Regions from separate parts of the Homo sapiens genome. Here region 2 is linked to region 1. The links come from fine-mapping of genetic effects on gene expression. A gene starts in region 1. The other region holds a variant in brackets. All regions are shown on one strand. Distances are from middle to middle. Region 1 holds the start of REPIN1 (replication initiator 1). Region 2 overlaps LRRC61 (leucine rich repeat containing 61).

The links. PIP is the estimated chance that this variant, and not a neighbour inherited with it, causes the effect.
Region 2: its variant is fine-mapped to the expression of REPIN1 in whole blood (TOPMed, PIP 0.92).

Annotation. Positions count from the first base shown.
Region 1 is chr7:150,365,940-150,371,305 of GRCh38, reverse strand. It overlaps REPIN1 (replication initiator 1), which reads right to left and starts at 2,484. Exons shown (of 3, transcript NM_001099695.2): 1 at 2,365-2,484; 2 at 1,438-1,635; 3 at 1-78. The coding sequence starts at 1,594. REPIN1-AS1 (REPIN1 antisense RNA 1) reads left to right here. Exons shown (of 4, transcript NR_183429.1): 2 at 151-228; 3 at 450-601. RefSeq lists enhancers at 496-1,300, 1,301-2,106, 2,107-2,911, 2,951-3,010 and silencers at 1,571-1,720, 2,231-2,700.
Region 2 is chr7:150,326,330-150,331,695 of GRCh38, reverse strand. The region is part of intron 2 of LRRC61 (leucine rich repeat containing 61); the gene reads right to left. It also overlaps the pseudogene ZBED10P. Among named protein-coding and RNA genes, the nearest start is that of ACTR3C, 5.5 kb to the right of the region's middle. The variant G/A (reference allele first, on the strand shown) is at 2,353.

The DNA of each region.
Region 1 (5,366 bases):
CAGAAAGGAGTCGGGGCTGGGCCAGGCCCATGGCCAGGGGGCCCCTGCAACGACGTTCCAGCATCGGTTCTTCCTCTGCTGAGGGTGGAAAAGCACAGTCACTCCAGAGACCAACTCACTCTGCCCCTGTTTCTCCCCTCCCAACCTCAGCCCCGGACAGGAGCTGCCATCTATGAACCCCTAGAGCCCCGGACATGGAGCTAGACTACTCTCCTGTTTCCTTGTGTGGTATGTATTATTTCAATCTTGGGTTTTTAGATAACATTTCAAGGATGTTTGTCTTATGTCTTTGTTGCCCTGGAAACTTCCAGAAGGGAGGGACTCTGATACTAGAATCCCCCTCATGGCAGCTACCCCAGTGTCAGACAGGGAGTAAATGCTCCAGTGCTGAATGCACAAACATTCCTGCCACAGGACTCACCAGAAAATGTGGCCACTGCTCCCTACAGTGCCTTATGCTGCCCTCTCCCTGTGTCTGCTGTTTCCTATGCCACATCCGAGCTGCACAGCAACTCTGAGAAGCTGGACAAACAGACACTGAGCTCCCTGTTTAACAGATGAAGCAACTGTGAGACATCAAAGATGACGAGACCTGCCCAAGGTGACACAGTAAGCCAACAGCAGAATCAAGACTAGGGAACAGGTCTTTAAACTCCCAGGCCAGTGTTCTTTCCTCTAAAGCGCCTGGGTTTGCAAAGATCTCAGAGAAAAAGGTGTCTATAGCTTTTCATTCCTAGCCCCACAGGGGAGGCACTTTCAGCATCACTAACTGCAGTCTCCGTAGGAGGCTGGAGGACAAGTGAGAACAGCCCTTCTCGGGGAACAGGAGCAGAGCCCTGGGTGCTACTCCCGGCAGTCTAACGCCAGACCACCGCCTGCCCAGACTGTGCCCCCATTCTGCCCGCCTGCCCTCTTCCACCCACACAAATTAGGACATTGCAGGAAGGAAGGCTCTCCCTGAATCCAAGGAACACCCACAGCCTGCTGCCCTCGGGGCCTGATCACCGGCTCTGCCTCCCTCGGGGTGCTGGAGATTACTGGGGCAATAGAAGGGGAGGGAAGATGAGACTGCAATCTCAGTCCCCTGCCCGGTCCTGCCCCAACCTCGCCAGGGGCTGCCCCATGTTCAGCTCTTCCACAGCTCAGGGGAGCCCAGATTCCTGCACAGGAGCCTCCTCCGCGGAAGGAGGAAGGAAGCAGTTAGGCTCCTAAGGGCCCTTCTGTGCCTGCTCACAAGCTCCAGACACATCCTTCTAAATTCCCTAGAGCGCACTCTCTCTTCTCAGGGAACACAAAGGTCACTCATTCCCAGTGTCAGACTGTGCACAGGGAAGACCCCAGGATATGAGAAAGGGCCATTTCCTTCCGCCGGGATGGGGACGCCCGTGCACCCCTGTTGTGGCGTGGTTTGGGAGCACAGCAAAGGCCAGACTCTACCCTGGAGACTGCAGAGCTGGGGATGAGGCTTTTTCCAGCTCCTCTTGGGGATGTTCCTGGGGATACTTCCGCGGCTGCAGCGCCTGCTTCGGCCCACACTCCGGTAGCCCCCAGGTGTTAGAGAAAACTGCAGTAATAAAGACACCCCTATCCCCATGGCAGAGCTCAGACCTCTGACTGCAGAGAGGCCAGCCTTACCTGTGGGGAGGGAAGAGAAAACAGAAGTGAGGCTCTGAGCTCCTCTAGGGCAGTCAGCTTTGTGTCCTCACCAGCCACAACCCCTCCCCCCACAAAGCCACACGCACCAGCCATAAGCCCCACATCCTGCCTGGCAGAGTGACCTTAATGGACATTGGATTAATAAATGAATGTGCCCCTTCAACAAGGAAGCACACTGCTGTCTTTCGGGGTCACTTTCTTCCCTGGTAAGGTCACGGAACGAATTCTCCATTCTGTGGCCAGAGTCTGGGCTTTCCCTGATGGCCAAAGGCCGGCCTATGGCAGGAACTCTGGAATCCCTGCTGGCTCCCCTTCCCCCAGCCTCCTCCCGACAGGAATTCCAGGCCTATTTCCCATGGGGCTGCGCAGGGCCAGCTGGTGTGACCACGACTCCGTCAGAATCCCCTTCCGCATCGCGGCTGGCCGCGGGTGGCAGAAGCCCCACACCGCCCTTTTGTACTGATGCGTGTCCTCCGTCCACGCTCCCGGGCACACGGGTCCCGTTCTTGCGAGTGAGCCATTTCGGGTCCCACGCACGGCGCAGCTCGCGGAGCCTGTGCGCAGGTGCGCTCCCCCACCCCCGCAGATCCAGCAGCGTCCCCCCCCGCGCACTCACACACGGTCGCGCACACTCACGGTCACGCGCCCCGCAGGTGGAGCGGCCCCCCGCGGGCCCGCGGTGGCCCCGCGCCCCTGCCCCGGCCGTACCTCTGCGGCGGGCTGTGCAGGGACGCGGCGCCCGTCCATGGAGCCCGAAGGCCGGCCTCCGCGGCCCACTCTCGCTCCCCGCCCCGCCGCGGCGACAGCGGCAGGTTCGAGTTCACAACTGCCAGGCCCGTCCCCAACCTCCCCCCGCCGGGTTCCCAGCGCCACGTGACTACAGGAGCTGCCGAGGGTCAGTCGCCGGCTCCCGCGGCCGCGGCCTGGGGGCGGGGAGGGACTGCCGGGGCCGGGGCGCGGGCGCCCCCGCCAAGAGCGGGCCGGGTCACTCAAGCCACTGCCGCGCCAGGGCGGCAGGCCTCGGAGGGTCGGACTCCGTTGCCATGGCGACCACCAGCCCGGGTTTCTCTGGGACTGGCCGGAGCTCAAGTTTCCCGACCCTTTGTCCCTGCGGAGCACGCGCGTCCCCGGGCGACCGCGTGGCTGGCCTATGGTCACCGGGGTGTTCGGCCTTAGCTGCCTTATGAGAGGCTGGGAGCCCGTCGGGAGACTTCAAAGAGGGCTCCGGCAAGCCCCCGGAGCGTCGTTGCCCGGGCCTTTCTCAGGCCGCGCACCCCGGCCGCAGTGCGGACGCTTGCGGCCGCGGCGGTCCCGGGACGGCGGTGGCGCACCTGGAAGGCCCTAGCTTCCGATTTGTTCCAAAGTGGAGCACAAAAAGGCCCGATCCTGCGAACTTTGAAAAGGCCTCTCTTCACTCTTTTCTAGAAATTAAGAAAGAGCAGAAGTTGCTGGGCTTCCTCTGGCTGCGGGCCAAGCGTGGGGCGACGGCCGAGGTGGCCGTTGGCGCACGTGGGGCATTTCGCTTGGAAAGGCTCAGCAGCCTGTGTGGCGTCTGCGGTGGCAGGTGCGAGCCTGTGCCCATGACTCACCCACTAGCAGGTGGCCCTGGCTTTCCAAACTAAACACTTCCTGGGGTTTCCAGGGTAGTACAATTTCATGTACTTTCATGCTTTTCAACACAGGCAATTTTTGAATTGTATAATTAGTCGTAAAAATACTTTTTAAATCTATTGCATAAATAGGAAATAGGGGAACATAAAACTCAGTTTTACCTCGTAGAGTCAATTACATTTAATATTTTGGTATGTTGCCTCCGGTGTTTTCTCTACGTATATCCATGGCATGTCTGGCATAATTGGAATAATGCCTTGCGAAGATGTATTCTGCCTTCTTCACTTAACACGATCTTGTGAATTTTCTTCCATTTTATTAGATATTCTTTTAAACATGATTATTTATGGCTGTATAAAAGGAATATATTTTTTAAATGTTTTCTAAATTATCTTCCAGGAAAACGTATTAGTTTTCCCTGAGAAATGCCCATTTTCCATATACTTGACAACACAGACTTTTTTAAAAAAAAAATTTAGTTTGAAATGGTTATTTCTCATCTTTTGTACTTGCATTTCTTAGAGTACTAGTTAGCTGGATTGTTTTTTCACATGGTTATTTTTTGCCAGTTTTATTTTCTCTTGTGAATTTGTTTATGTCCATTTGCCCACTTTTCTATTTGCCCATTTTAAAAGTTGGGGAGTTGGTTTATTGTTTGGGGGGCACTCATAAAGTACAGGTATTAAAGACTTGTCATGTTTGTTGCAGACGTGTTTCCTCGTACTTGTTAACTTTTTTTTTTTTTTTTTTTGAGACAGGGTTTCACTCTGTCACCAGAGCTGGAGTGCAGTAGCACTATCATGGCTCACTGAAGCCAGGACTTCCTGAGCTCAAGCAATCCTCCCACCTCGGCCTCTGAGTAGCTGGGACTACAGGATCACATCACCACATCCAGCTAATTATTTTATTTTAATGTTTTTCTTCTGTAGAGATGGGGTCTCACTGTGTTGCCCAGGCTGGTCTCAAACGATCCTCCCGCCCCAGCCTCCCAAAGTGTTGGGATTACAGATGTGAACCACTGCATCCGGCCTACCTTTTCAGTTGTTGATGTGAGAAAGTTTTGCTTTAGTCTATGTGCTGCTGAAGCGAGCATAAGAAAGTTTTGTTTTATTTTTATTTTATTATTTATTTATTTATTTATTTATTTATTTATTTATTTATTTTGAGATGGAGTCTGGCTTGTCTCCCAGGCTGGAGTGTAGAGGGAGGTGTGATCTCGGTTCACTGCAAGCTCCGTCTCATAGGTTCTCGCCATTCTCCTGCCTCAGCCTCCCGAGCAGCTGGGACTACAAGTGCCCGCCACCACGCCCAGCTATTTTTTTGTATTTTTAGTAGAGACGGGGTTTCACTGTGTTAGCCAGGATGGTCTCGATCCCCTGACCTCGTGATCTGCCCGCCTTGGCCTCCCAAAGTGCTGGGATTACAGGCATGAGCCACCGTGCCCGGCGAGAAAGTTTTGTTTTAATGTGCCAAAACTTAGCAGTCTTCCTTTATGGTTTCTGCCTTTAGAGTTATGTTTAGAGAGGCTACCCGCAACCTAAAACTACATTGAATGTCTGCAGTTTTATCACAGAAAATAAGTTTTGGTAGCTGGTAGTTTAAGTACTTCCCCTACACAAAGATTCTGGGTTTTTTTATTCTTCATAACTTCTTGGCTAGAATCACTTCATTTATTCTTCCAAACTGACATGGAGCCGGCACCCCTCTTACAGGCCTGCAGGAAGTGGGGAGGGGGCAAGCATGGAAATAAAGGAAAATCTTGAATTCCTTCAAGGGAAATTCCAGGCACCCAGCTAGCAACCTAATAAACAAGAAGGTAACTGTAGCTTAAAACAAGGAAGTTACAGTCACAAAATGTTTGGTTCCCTATAGAAACTAAAGATAACATCTTAATATATGTCCCTGAGTTGCTCTTCAGAAACCTGGGCCCCCCTCCCAAGTGGATGCCCTGGCCTGCAGACCTCAGACAAGAGGGAACTGAGGACTAAGCTCTGCTGTTCTTTGTTCTAAATTTCTTCCTGAGGATCCTGATGGAAGTTGGACCAGACCTGAACATTCCTTTCTGCTAACCCCAAGGTTTTAGGCAAAGCTTTGCTTCC
Region 2 (5,366 bases), 40 kb after region 1:
AAGGGCATGTGTCCACTTATCCACACAGACAAGGTGTATGCAAGGACCTTCATACCCACTTATGTTTTAACAGAGCATCACATGTACAAAGCCACGTAGTACAAAATTCACAGTCACCTACGAAGAGAGTAAGCCTCTTCTCGGCACATACTGCTAGACGTAAAGGAAGTAATCGGGAGATGGAAAATGACATCTCCCAGAAAAAAAAATATGGCAATCTGTCAAGTGAGAAACTGACCCTTTCCTACCAAATAGGTTTAAGATTCTGGCCATGAGCATGTGGCGCCCAGGATGCAACACCCAGCTCTCTGCTTTGACCTATTACAGGCAGGGGCTCTCTAGGAGTTCACGGGCAGGGTGAGCACCGGCACCTGCCATGTCTGCCATCCCACCCTGAGCGGACTGCAGGGTCTGTATCCCCTTGGCCAGGTCACCACTAGAGCAGATGAGGGGAGGCGGGGTGTAGTTGGGGAACTGCTCCAGGTTGGCCTTCAAGAAGAGGAGATGCTCAATGGCTTCCACCTTGAGAGAAGAGTTTTGCTCTACAAGGGTGGGGCTGTTCAGGGAGGCAAAGATGCTTTCAGAGAAGGCTCCTGTGGGGGGTAAGACAGATAGATGGTGGCCAGGCTTCTCGCTTCTTCTCCCAGTAAGCCAGGGGGTCATCCTGGGCTCCAACGGTCTCATTCTCCCACAGATACTTCTTGACAATGATGCTGGCCCAGTGGCTCTTGGTGGACAGCGAGCCCCCGCTTCTCTCAGAGGCCAGCAGCCCCATGCTCTCCAGCAAGCCCTTCTCCCTCTGGGCCAGCAGGAAGGCCCCAGAGTGGCTGCTGCTCTGCAGAGGCTCCCCCTGGCTTCTCCCCTCCACCCCGGAGCTCTTGGCTACCCTGGTGGGGTCCACGCACAGACCCCTGGGGCTTTGCAGGGGACTTGGGGAGTTCAAAGAGTATTCAGACACTCTAATCTCCTTCACCTTGTACACGAGGACTTGCTTCCAGTGGTCAATGTCGGTCGGCCCCCATGGCAGGATGGCCTCAATCTTCCCCTTGAAGCAAGGGTCCAGCAAGGTGGCCAGCACAAACTCCTCGCGGTAGAAGAGCTTGTTGAGCTGACAGTCGGTGCAGAGCTGCCGGGCCAACCCCTCAGCCAGCTGGATGGCTGCGCCCCTCTCCCCGACACTCTGCTCCTGAAAGTGTGTGTGAACCTGCTCCAGGAAGATGTGCAGGTAGCGCAGCTGGGGCAGCACCTGGCTCAGAGAGGCCTGTGCCGCACTCGCCTCGCGGACCACCATCTGGAAGGGCTACAGGAGCTTGCTGAGGCTGTCTGCCGGGCTCCAGAATGTGGCCGACAAGGCAACACCAGCCTTCCCCAGCTGGTGCCTGCCCTTGTACTCTTGAAGGGGCTGCTGCTGCTCCACCAGCCACTCCAGCAGGTGGTAGGCCGAGACCCAGTGGTCCAAGAGCTCCTCAAAGGGCTGGTGGGCTAGGAGGCTGCGCTGGCGCTGGAGCTGGGTGAGGAGTCCCTGGGCCTCCACAGAGCCTTAGAAATGGCTGCAGGTGGCCCTGGCAGTGCCCAGGATGATCTGGACACTGTGAGGGTGACACAGAAAGTTTCTCACCAGGGAGTCGAGGCAGTGGGCGAAACAAGGGATGGGGGAACAGCCCTCACCCTTGGCCGCCTGCTCCAGGCTGGGGCAGCTGCTCGATACCAGGAAGCCTGCCAGCAGGAAGCTACGGCCCAGCCACAGGCTGGCCTGCTCCAGCATCTGCAGCTGCCAGTCCTCCGCGGCTCCCTCCAGGGGCAGGCCTCGCATCCAGAGCAAGGTTCCCAGCATCAGCCCTTGGAACTCCAACCAAGCTCTATCCAAATGCAAACGAGGGCAGCTGGGGGAAATCACTCAGGAGCCTACATGCTTTGTCTGAGGCACTACCCCTAGAATCTCCAGCTTTCAAAAGTGGCCTGGACAGGGAAGTTGTTTTCCTTTTTAAGAAGGACAGGTAATCATAATATTTCCCATGCTGGAGTGAAATGATTAAGCATGAGGCCAGATGACGGACCCAACCCACAGCCACTACCTTCTGAGGGAGGAAATTCCTCATGGGCAGGCCAGGCTTTACTCACATCTTGTTTCCTCACAGCCCACTCTTGGGACAGGGTGCTGGGAAGTGTCCCAAGCAATGGGTGGCGGAGACAGGCAGAGAGTGTGGCTGGGGGACCGCTGCAGACCTGCGGCTCCCACACTCACCCCACCCAGCTCCAGGCCAGTGCGATGGGACTGATTCGCTCCCTTGGATACCGTACCTCGGTCCCCCGTCTCCCGGGTGCCCACAGCACTAGCTGTGTCACCGATAC[G/A]TCCGTGCATCTTAGCTTTTATTCCCCTTAATGTTGTTTGTGCTGTTGTCTACTTTAATCTCGGTCCCTCACTCTTTACTCTTCTCAGGTACTGAGCAACCTCAGGGATAAGTCGGCAGAAGCTCCAGGCCTGCATAGCAGGAATACTTCTGGTTGTTTTTCTAACCACGAAGAGCAACTATATGGAGGACCCAGCCTATTGAACTACCTCATGTTTGCCAGAGACTTGGCTTTTCTGCCACAGTGTCCTCCTGAAACCCCCCGACCTTGAAAATGTTTCACGGGAGACTAGGTTTCAACTGGATAGCATCAAGACTTGATCTCTGGCTAGTGGAAGATTGAAAATTAGACTAAGGTGCAGAGACACCAAGGGACACCACGGTTAGGTGAGGGTTTCCTAATCCTAGGGCATGGGACTTGCTTCACACACCAGGTCCGTCCTTCACTGGACTGTGCTAGGCCTACCATCCACAACAGAGGGTATGCGTGTGTATTCGTAAAAGACGTGACTTGGGAACGCTAAATTTTAAGACCAGTGCCCCTGTACCCATCCTGTGCTGTCCAGGGAAGGATATATGAAGCAAGAACTAAAATTCTTAACGTTTCCAAATTCTTGGGTTCAAGGGAGCCCCGTAAGAGAGGGCCTCTTCATGTGGTGTGCACAGCCAGCGTCCTGCCCTGCTGCAGCGCTGATTCAGCATCACGGTAACTAAGGAGAAAAGGGGGCTTCATTTACACGCTATAGGATCACCACAAACCTCCCTTGCTGGGCTAGAATGGGACAAGCACGATAGAACGTGTTCAGGGGTGCACATCTGATCCTGGGTTTGTTTCCCCCTGACGCTGCCCCCTCTAGTTCCTGTATCTGTCTGGACTTTGTAGCAGTTGGTGACTGCTAGGTGGCCTAGTTTGTGTAACTATACTGTGTTGGTCTTTCTCCATGTTTTTTTGGGGTTTTATTGTTTACAAACTTTTTTGTATTGAGAGAAAAATGGCCAAAGCATCTTTACAGAAAGTTCTGAACCAGGCAAAAAGGATGTAAAACATGAGTTTGGGGGACCCCCATATTGAAGTAGGGATTTTGAACTATCCTTTCTTTGTGTTCCCCTTCCTCTATTTCCTATTTTGGACCAGATCTTCTGCCCTAAAAACTTGACTTCTACCGTACCTTCTTCTCCATTCACCTACCCCAAAAGAAAACCTACATACCCACACACGCATATATTGAATTCTCAGGCTGTCTCTGCAACTCTTAAATGATGTATGAGAACAGCCTGAAGAAGTCAGGAACCCTCCATCTCTTGTTCCAAACCTGAGTCAATGTGGTTCACCCCAAACACTTAAGACACTGCTTTATTGGGATGGATCAAACCTACTTAATCTGTAATCTCAAAGAAGGGAGAAGCAACCGGGGGCCTTCCACGTAGAAGTGGGGTCAGGAGACCAGGCAAAGGAATATGAGTATATATCTAAGTCACTTAGGAACTTTTACGCAAGTGCAAGAAACTTTTTTTTTTTTTTTTTGAGACAAGGTCTTGCTCTGTCGCCCAGACTGTAGTGGAGTGGTACAATCTTGGCTCACTGCAGCCTCAACCTCCCAGGCTTAAGCGATCCTCCCACCTCAGCTCCCAAGTAGCTGGAACTACAGGTGTACACCAACACACCTGACTAATTCTTTTAATTTTTTTGTAGAGACAAGGTCTCACTATGTTGCCCAGGCTGGACTCCAACTCCTGGGCTCAAGCAATCTTCCTTCCTTGACCTCCTAAAGTGCTGGGATTACAGGTGTGAGTCACCACGCCCGGCCCGGTGCAAGAACTTATGTCAAAGTGGCTACAAGATTGTTTAAAAGGAGACAGATGAATGTAACCCCATGTTTACTGCTAGAAACCAAAGCTTTATGTGAAATCTTGAATTTAGGGGCAGGGAGGGAGGGTAGAAAGGCTTGTACCTTCCCTGATCCCTGCCCCTCAGTCCTGAACTGCAGGAGACCAGGGCCCCTTGGGCTTTGGTTACTCCATCTCTGGGGTGCATCTATTGGATGGCTGATTTTTCTGTACCAGGTACTTCCTTTCCCATTTTCTAATCACTTTGCAACACACATGCTGACCCTTTTCACTTCCCTTCTCCTTTCCCTGGAAAGATATAATGAATACATAAAGACTTACTGGTACTGAAACTCAAAAAAAAAAAAAGATAAAAAAGATCTGACAATGAGTGATGCTAAACATTACTCACCAGGGTAATGTTTAAAAAGGGTCACCAGAGATGGCAGGGCTGCCTATAACAGGTGACGAGATGGCTAAGAAGGCTCAAGCAAGACTCTGGCCAGAAAGAGGAGCTCCTCCCAGCCAGAAGAACCTCAGAAGGGTTAAGTGGCAACAACTTCAAGTCCATCTCGCAAGAACTTTCAGCCACCAATAAATCCAAGAACTGAAGGCCTACTGCAAGGTGGCGCTTGTGTAGGGGCTAGGTAAAGCTGCAAAGGAAACACAGGCTGCTGTCCTGGGCCCACAACTGCTCTTGGATGTCACACTGGAGGGGACTTAACTCTCACTTCATGATTGAGGAAACTGCAACCCCAGAGTGTGAACATCCAGGCCTCCAGAGGCCATCTGCAGAACGGGGTCACCCTCCAAAGTATTTTTTTTTTTTTTTTTTCAGACTGGGTCTTGCTCTGTCACCCAGGCTGGAGTACAGTGGCATGATCTACCTTGTTGCAACCTCTGCCTCCTGGGCTCAAGTAATCCTCCCAAACTCAGCCTCCCAAGTAGCTGGGACTTCAGATGTGCACCACCACACCCAGCTAATTTTTGTGTTTTCTGTAGAGACGGGATTTCACCATGTTGCCCAAGCTGGTCTTGAACTCCTGGGATCAAGCAATCCCCCTGCCTCAGCCTCCCAAAGTATTGGGATTACAGGTGTGAGCCACTGCACCCAGCACACCCCAAAATCTTCATCTTAAGACCTACCCAGTTACCCCAGGACACCAATCTTGTTCTGTTTCCCAATTA